2 linked regions of the Homo sapiens genome follow. The protein of the gene in region 2 interacts with the protein of the main gene of each other region in a biochemical or structural test. Each region holds a gene or a part of one and is shown on either strand. Other genes may lie near its edges.

What was found.
Region 1: of the proteins of PTPN11 (region 2) and MAPT, one has a biochemical effect on the other in vitro, tested with the Homo sapiens proteins (one study listed by BioGRID).

Annotation. Positions count from the first base shown.
Region 1 is NC_000017.11:45,984,832-45,988,617, reverse strand, and holds part of MAPT (microtubule-associated protein tau), read right to left. Parts: intron 1,579-3,786; coding exon 1,523-1,578; intron 1-1,522. UniProt on the Homo sapiens protein: Promotes microtubule assembly and stability, and might be involved in the establishment and maintenance of neuronal polarity.
Region 2 is NC_000012.12:112,449,661-112,453,446, reverse strand, and holds part of PTPN11 (tyrosine-protein phosphatase non-receptor type 11), read right to left. Parts: intron 3,130-3,786; coding exon 2,935-3,129; intron 253-2,934; coding exon 60-252; intron 1-59. UniProt on the Homo sapiens protein: Acts downstream of various receptor and cytoplasmic protein tyrosine kinases to participate in the signal transduction from the cell surface to the nucleus. Positively regulates MAPK signal transduction pathway. Dephosphorylates GAB1, ARHGAP35 and EGFR.

The sequences.
Region 1 (3,786 bases), on a different chromosome or scaffold from region 2:
TTTCAGTTTGTCAGTGTAAACAACACTGCTTACTTTTGAACCCATTCCACAAGAGGAAGCAGCCAGGGACGGGTGTCTGCACGCCTGTCCCTATGGAGGCGGGGCTGGGGGGGGCCCTGGAACCAGGATGCAGGATAGATGGTGACTGACACCCACAGTTCGTCCTGCCCGTGGGGGATTTTGACGGGTGGGCATGGCCCTGGAGGAGAAGGGGGTGTTTGGAGGGGAACAGGTCACACTCTCGGGAAACAAAGTGGGGAGGCTAAGCCTCGAAGTGTTTCCAAGAGCAAGTCAGAGCTCAGAGAAGGGTCCTGTCCCAGACTTCACTGGGCTTCTAGGGGATGCTATCTTATTGCTTTCCAATTCCCCATGGAAGCGGCCAAGGCCCTCTGTGTGGTCAGGCTTGGTAAGGAGGACCCAGGAGATGAAGTAGCAATGGGAGAGGAGGGACACAGGCTGGGGCCCTGGGGCTGATGACAAGAAAGCAAAGCTGGGGTGGGGGTATTGACGACTCCTCCTTCCCTCGCTGCACACGGCCCCTCTCCACCAGCAGCACTCCCCAGCTGGCCGAGGCCCAGGGTAATAGATCTTTCCCCTCCCTAGACTCTGGGCAACTCCAGGGCAGGGATGTTGTACCCATGTGTACTGAATGAATGAATGAAGGAAGGAACAAATGAATGCATGCATGCATGAGGCTGGTATTCCCTGCCCCCTGCCCCCAGCACTAAATGTGCACCGTGATTGACAAGCAGCTGTCACTATCACTTCAGAGACCCAGGCCAGCTCTCCAAATCCCCACAGGCCCTTCCACTGCCTCACTAGATGAGGCTGGGGAGCCCTGACTCTGCAGGCACTTCCGGGAGCAGCCCTCAACACACCACTGAATGCTCAGAGCTATGTGGCAACTGGAGATGCCCTCCGGGCTCCAGTACTGATTAAAATTCAGGTGTTTCAGACAGAATTTATGCTGGAAATTTTAGATACCTTTAAGAAAAATAGGTCTTATCTAGAGCCATGGTGGGATTTTCCAGGAAAAACGCCACTGTGCAATTACGGGAGCATTTCCCCAGACATTTCCCCAGTCATTGAGACAGTAAACAATGGGTGAAGTGAAATACTGAGAAGGATGGGCGAAGATCTGGGTGCAGTTTATGCAGTGAGAAGATGGCTTCATTTACTGTCCTAGGGCTGGTTTTCAAACACACCTTCATTTACTGTCCTGGGTTTGGTTTTCAAACACACCTTCATTTACTGTCAGGGTCTCACTGAAAGTACACTAAGAAAGCTGGAATTAGGAGCATGACTTCATGAACCTGCCAACTGCTCTTCCCTGGGGTAAGTATCAAAACTAATAAATGCTGGACTTTTTAAAAGCCTGCCCCAAAATACAAAGCACTTTAAATGACAGCTGTACTTTAGTGACAAATACTCCCCACATTATATATGAGAATGAATCAGACATAAAGCACAGCTTCTCTGTAAACTTGACCAGCTGCAGAGCTCCGTGGCATCGTCAGCTTACCTTGGCTTTTTTGTCATCGCTTCCAGTCCCGTCTTTGCTTTTACTGACCATGCGAGCTGATAAAATATAAAATAAGAATGCTTGTCACACTCCATTTTCACTGTTCACAGAAAGCCAGCTGTGGTGAAGCTGGATTTCTCTGGGATAGGTCCATGTTTGTTTAGTTGGGTCTGGTGGAAACCCAGTTGGTTCTCTTTTCCCTTGAATCTGCTAGGCCTCGCATTGTTAGTATCAACACAGCACACTGGGGTCACTGATTAGCGCAACCTGGCAAGAGGGGGCAGCAGGCTGGCCGAGGGTGGGACCATGCAGAGGGGACGCAGCAGAAACTGTCACGGGGACATGATGGCATGGAGGCTATCTAAGGAAGGTGCAGTCTCCCTAACCCACAGGCTCCTGCCCTGTTTCTGCCAGGGTCAGCCTCACCCCACTGGGACCAGCCCCACTCCATGGATGGGTGTTTTAAAAGCCTCAGGGCCATGGATGTTGGTAGCTCAGTGAGGACCCAGCCTCCTGCAAGATCCAAGGATGGGGGTGGGTGCATTGTCTCCACACTGCAGCCAGGCTTGGCCCTGATTCCCTGTGAGGTGCCTGCTCACCCTCTTGGCCTTGGAAACTGCCTGGAACCACCCGGCTCCCCTGCCCATGTGGCTAGATTGCCAGCAGTCCTGATTTCCACCTTCCTGGCCATCTTATGCTGACCAACCCATCTCCATTTCTGGTCACACGCCTCCAGAATAGGAGAGGCTGGCAGGGTTGTCTTTGTCCCCTAGTTGCTGGTTGTACCCCCAGGGCCTGCCCCTCACTAATGGTGGCTTTGGCCACCAGCCCCAGCTGCTCTGAGACGAGCCAAGCCCAGCCCAGCCCTGAGCCAGGCCTGGTGGGTTTCTTGCCACTTACTGGTCTTCAAAGGGCACGAATTCTCACTGCTTCCCCAAATTAGCTACAAACCAGTTACCATCATACATTCCCACAGACAACATCAGCCTTCATCACACTCCTTGGTGAAACCAACCCGCTGACCTGTCAGCCAGCATCAGCGCTAACTCACCCTTCTCCTTCTCTTGACAGTCACTGCTGAAAACTGATCATAGATTTTCTTCTTTGGTTTCAATATCACATTCCCTCTACCCCATGGACAACTGGGTCTCTTGGAGCTTCTCATTGGCTATTGTCACCTGGATTTCTAGAGGGACCAGCAATGAGTATGCCCAGAGGTTTTCCAACTATACTATGTGGCAGAATCACCTGCTAAAAGACTCCCAGGCTTACCCCACAACTGGGTCTGTAAGCCTAAAGTGGCACCTGGGAACCTGCACTTTAGTAAGAGCCCCAGGCGGATCTGACTCACGTGTTCTTTGTTTTGCCCACATCAACCAGCACCATCCACGGCACAACAAAAGAATCTGCTAAATCGGCATTTCCCAAACTTCCTCCAGGAAATGTTAGCAGGTAGAATCAAGTAAGTTTGGGAAACCCACTCTGTGACCTTCTCAGAGGGTCACAATGGCCATTAGTACATTAAAGGCTCTGACAAGTCCTGCAGCAGAAAAGCCTGTTTAACTTACTTTAGTCTTTTATTTTTTTCCCCCAGTCACTGGGCCATGGAACTCTTTTTTAATCCAAACACACCTATGAACCTCTAGTAGGCCAGTATTCAAGAAAACATCATTTCAGGAAATATTGTAGTAACCTGTCAAGTCAGTTATTTGTCCCCTACTGTTTTGGAATTTAACAAAGGATATAGGATATATTTTTTTCTCTCTTAACTTTATTTTATTTTATTTTTTGAGACAGAGTCTCACTCTGTCGCCCAGGCTTAGGGTACAGTGGTGTGATCTTGGCTCACTGTAACCTCTGCCTCCTGGGTTCAAGCACTTATCCTGCTTCAGCCTCCCCAGTAGCTGGGACTACAGGTGCCCGCCACCACGCCCAGCTAATTTTTTGTAATTTTAGTAGAGACAGGGTCTCACCATGTTGGCCAGGCTGGTCTCGAACTCCTAACCTCAAATGATCCACCTGCCTTGGCCTCCCAAAGTGCTGAGATTACAGGCGTGAGCCATCGCCCCCAGCCTCTGTCTTAACTTTTAAACACAGGCTTCTTTATAGCATTTCAAAGTTTTCCCTAAAAGTAAAATCTAATAAAAATTTAACAGATGCTTGCAACTGTGAGCTTCAGTAACATCCATTTCTGGGCTCTGCAAATAACTGTGAAATGCTAAGGGTCCCAAATTTATGAACAAGCTCGCCTTGTGGCTCTGAGG
Region 2 (3,786 bases):
GCAGAAAAATCACCCAAAGGTAACATCTTGCCAGACCCATTTTTCAACTGGAGATTTACCTGACAGCGAATCATAACATGGGTCACTTTAGACTTGCCGTCATTGCTCTCCCCTTTGTCATCACCAGTGCGCACAGAAAGAACAAAATCTCCAGGGTGGCTCTGGCTCTCTCGTACAAGAAAACTACCATGTTTTCCTTTTTCAGTTAATAATTTCTCTGCTTCTTTCCCAGAGAGATGTCCATGAAACCACCTAAAGTTTTTAAAAAATAAAAAAGAATTTAGCTCTACTATGGGTTCATGTTGTTCTTTCACAAAACTACTGTATACAGTCAGCTCTCCTAAACACAATTAAAAAGTAGACACATTCCTCCAAGGGATTGATCAATCCCACCTGAGACAGAAAATCTGCATCCCATGCAGGCAGGAAAAACCACAAAGATGGTAAGAATGACCACTAAACTTCTTAAATGAGTCCACAGTCCTTTAGAGACAAATGCCCCAATCTTTCCTGTTTTTTTTTAAATCCCTCCTCTTTTAAAAATGCAATTTGCCATTCGTCCATTGCCCAATCTTAAAAGGACCAACTGTTTAATTATAGCCATTTAAAGAAGTTACAGGCCATGCATAGTGGCTTATGCCTGTAATCCCAACACTTTGGAAGGCCAAGGCAGGAAGATCACTTGAGGCCAGGAGTTCAAGACCAGTCTGGGCAACACAGTGAAATCCCCATCTTCACAAAACAATTAAAAATTAGCCTGGCATGGTGGCAACTGCCTGTAATCCCAGCTATACACAAGGCCGAGGCAGGAGGATCACTTGAGTCCAGGAGGTCGAGGCTGCAGTGCGCTATGATCATGCCACCGCACTCCAGCTTGGGTGACAGAGCAAGACCCTGTCTCAAGAAAAAAAAATAAAAGTCGGCCGGACGTGGTGGCTCATGCCTGTAATCCCAACACTTTGGGAGGCCGAGGCAGGTGGATCACCTGAGGTCAAGAATTCGAGACCAGCCTGACCAACATGGTGAAACCCTGTCTCTGCTAAAAATACAAAATTGGCCGGGTGTGGTGGCAAGTGCCTGTAATCCCAGCTACTCAGGAGGCTGAGGCAGGAGAATCACTTGAACCTGGGAGGCGGAGGTTGCAGTGAGCTGAGATCGCACCATTGCACTCCAGCCTGGGTGACGAGCGAAACTCCATCTCAAAAAAAATAAATAAATAATTTGTAAAAATAAAGTCAAAATAAAGAAGTTGTAATAAAAAGTTGTAATAGAGACAGGCACGGTGGCTCACGCCTATAATCCCAGCACTTTGAGAGGTCAAGGTGGGCGGATCACCTGAGTTCAGGAGTTTGAGACCAGCCTGGCAAACATGACAAAACCCTGTCTCTACTAAAAATACAAAAATTAACTGGGCATGGTGGCACATGCCTGTAGTCCCAGCTACTCGGGAGGCTGAGGCAAGAGAATTACTTGAATCTGGGAGGCGGAGGTTGTAGTGAGCCGAGATCGCGTCACTTGACTCCAGCCTGGGTGACAGAGTGAGACTCCATCTCAAATAAATAAATTAAAAAAAAGAAAGAAAAAGTTGTAACAGAGACAGAAAATCATTTTGAATGTTTGTCCTTGCCTTGGCATGTGAACACTCAATTAAAAAGGATCTTCATTATAAATTAATTCAAACATTCCAACCTTTTCCATATATACAACCTATACTTCAACAGCCTCCAGTGTCTTTGGACTATATCCTGGGTGATCATCTCAAACTGTATAATGCACATAAGACTTGGAGTAAAAATGAGGGATTTTGCTAAAAATATGAATTCCCAGGCTCCACAACCAGCAATATCAATACATGTAAGTCTGAATGAGGCCCAGGAATCTGCATTTTAACCAGCACATCAGACAGTCCTGATGTAGGCATCCAAAGCCATCCAAGGACAGACTTTGAGACAATACTGCTCCATGTTTTTTGGGAAGCATCTTAACATAGTTCTAATAATAAAGTGGCTTTTTCCCTCAGGATCTTGGTCAGAAAGCAAGTACTATCATGGCAGGTGGTGTTAAGGGCTCATCATCAAAAGAATAAACTTTGAGTTATTCTTCATCCATACTCAACTGAAAACAGTAAAATTTAGAAATAAACTGTACAGAGTTGGCTGACAGCCTTTTGCCTGAAGCTACGGTGGTAGCTAGAGAAACAAATTATCAGCACATAATAGCACTGACATAAAGGTATAAGCTGAAAAAATCATACCTGAAGACACAAAATATACAAACTAACTAAGAGATCCTGAATTTGCACCAAGTCAGAGAGGAGATTGGGAATGTACAAAACGAATACAATCAATAAATAAGTCAAGCCCATGCTTTCATCAGCCTAGTTCCAACACAGGGGGAAAGATCTCGAAAATAACATAATTTTCTCTAAGCAAGGTCATTCTCACATAATTGTGGTGATAACATTAAAAGAACTGATGAAAAAGCTGACCCTCTGAGCTCTCTGCTTTTCCACTTCTGAGCTTAAACTGACATCTGTTGGTGACATTGCTGAATAACTGGTCGAGAGCCACCATAGAAAACTGCTGCTATTTTGGTGTCTCCATTATCATTTGTTTTCCTCTAATAACTCTCAAAGATTATCTGCTGAAGTTCAATAAGTCTTAAAACTAATACACGTACCAAGTATATGCAGGAATGGTATGCAACCCCTATAGGATGAGTGTAAGTAACACTGATTAAAACTTTTGCAGGAAAAAGGTACTCTGAAAATAATTTGATGCTATTAGTCTCACTTTAGTAATTCTTTAAAGATTACAGCTCAAAAAACAGTCACAAGCCTTTGGAGTCAGAGAGTCATACACAGACCGTCATGCATTTCTGACACTCAGGGCACAAGGGAGCAGCAGACTTTGTGGTCACTAAAATGTTACTGACCTTTCAGAGGTAGGATCTGCACAGTTCAGAGGATATTTAAGCTCAATGACATCTCCATTCTTCTCTTTTAATTGCCCGTGATGTTCCATGTAATACTGGACCAACTCAGCCAAAGTGGCAAATTTCTCCCCTCCATACAGGTCATAGTAATCACCAGTGTTCTGAATCTTGATGTGGGTGACAGCTCCATTTCTTCTAAAATAGTCCATTGGAAAGGGAGGCAAGGGGACAAATAAAGAGTTACACCAGTAAAATCAGATCTCATCTTCCACGTCGGATTTTACCTAAGTGTTGAAAGAAACCCAAGGAACGAATTTACCTATTCCCTATAAGAAATACGATGGGTGAAATAACCACATGTCAACCAACTCAACACAAAGGTCTTTATTAGTATCTTTACCTTGCATATCTTTTTTTTTTTTTTTTGAGATGGAGTTTCGCTCTTATTGCCCAGGCTGGAGTGCAATGACGTGATCTCGGTTCACCGCAACCTTCGCGGTGGATTTACATACATTATAAATCCAGGTTCAAGTGATTCTCCTACCTCAGCCTCCCAAGAAGCTGGGATTACAGGAATGCGCCACCACGCTCAGCTACTTTTGTATTTTTAGTAGAGATGAGGTTTCTCCATGTTGGTCAGGCTGGTCTGAAACTCCTAACCACAGGTGATCCACCCACCTCGGCCTCCCAAAGTGCTGAGATTACAGGCGTGAGCCACCACGCCCGGCCTACCTTGTATATCTTCTATTTTGAATGACTGGCCTATCGAATTGCATATATTAAGTGACAATAACTGTATAGCTACCAAAACACTTGTACAAAAATATTCATTGCCACTTTATTCATAATAGA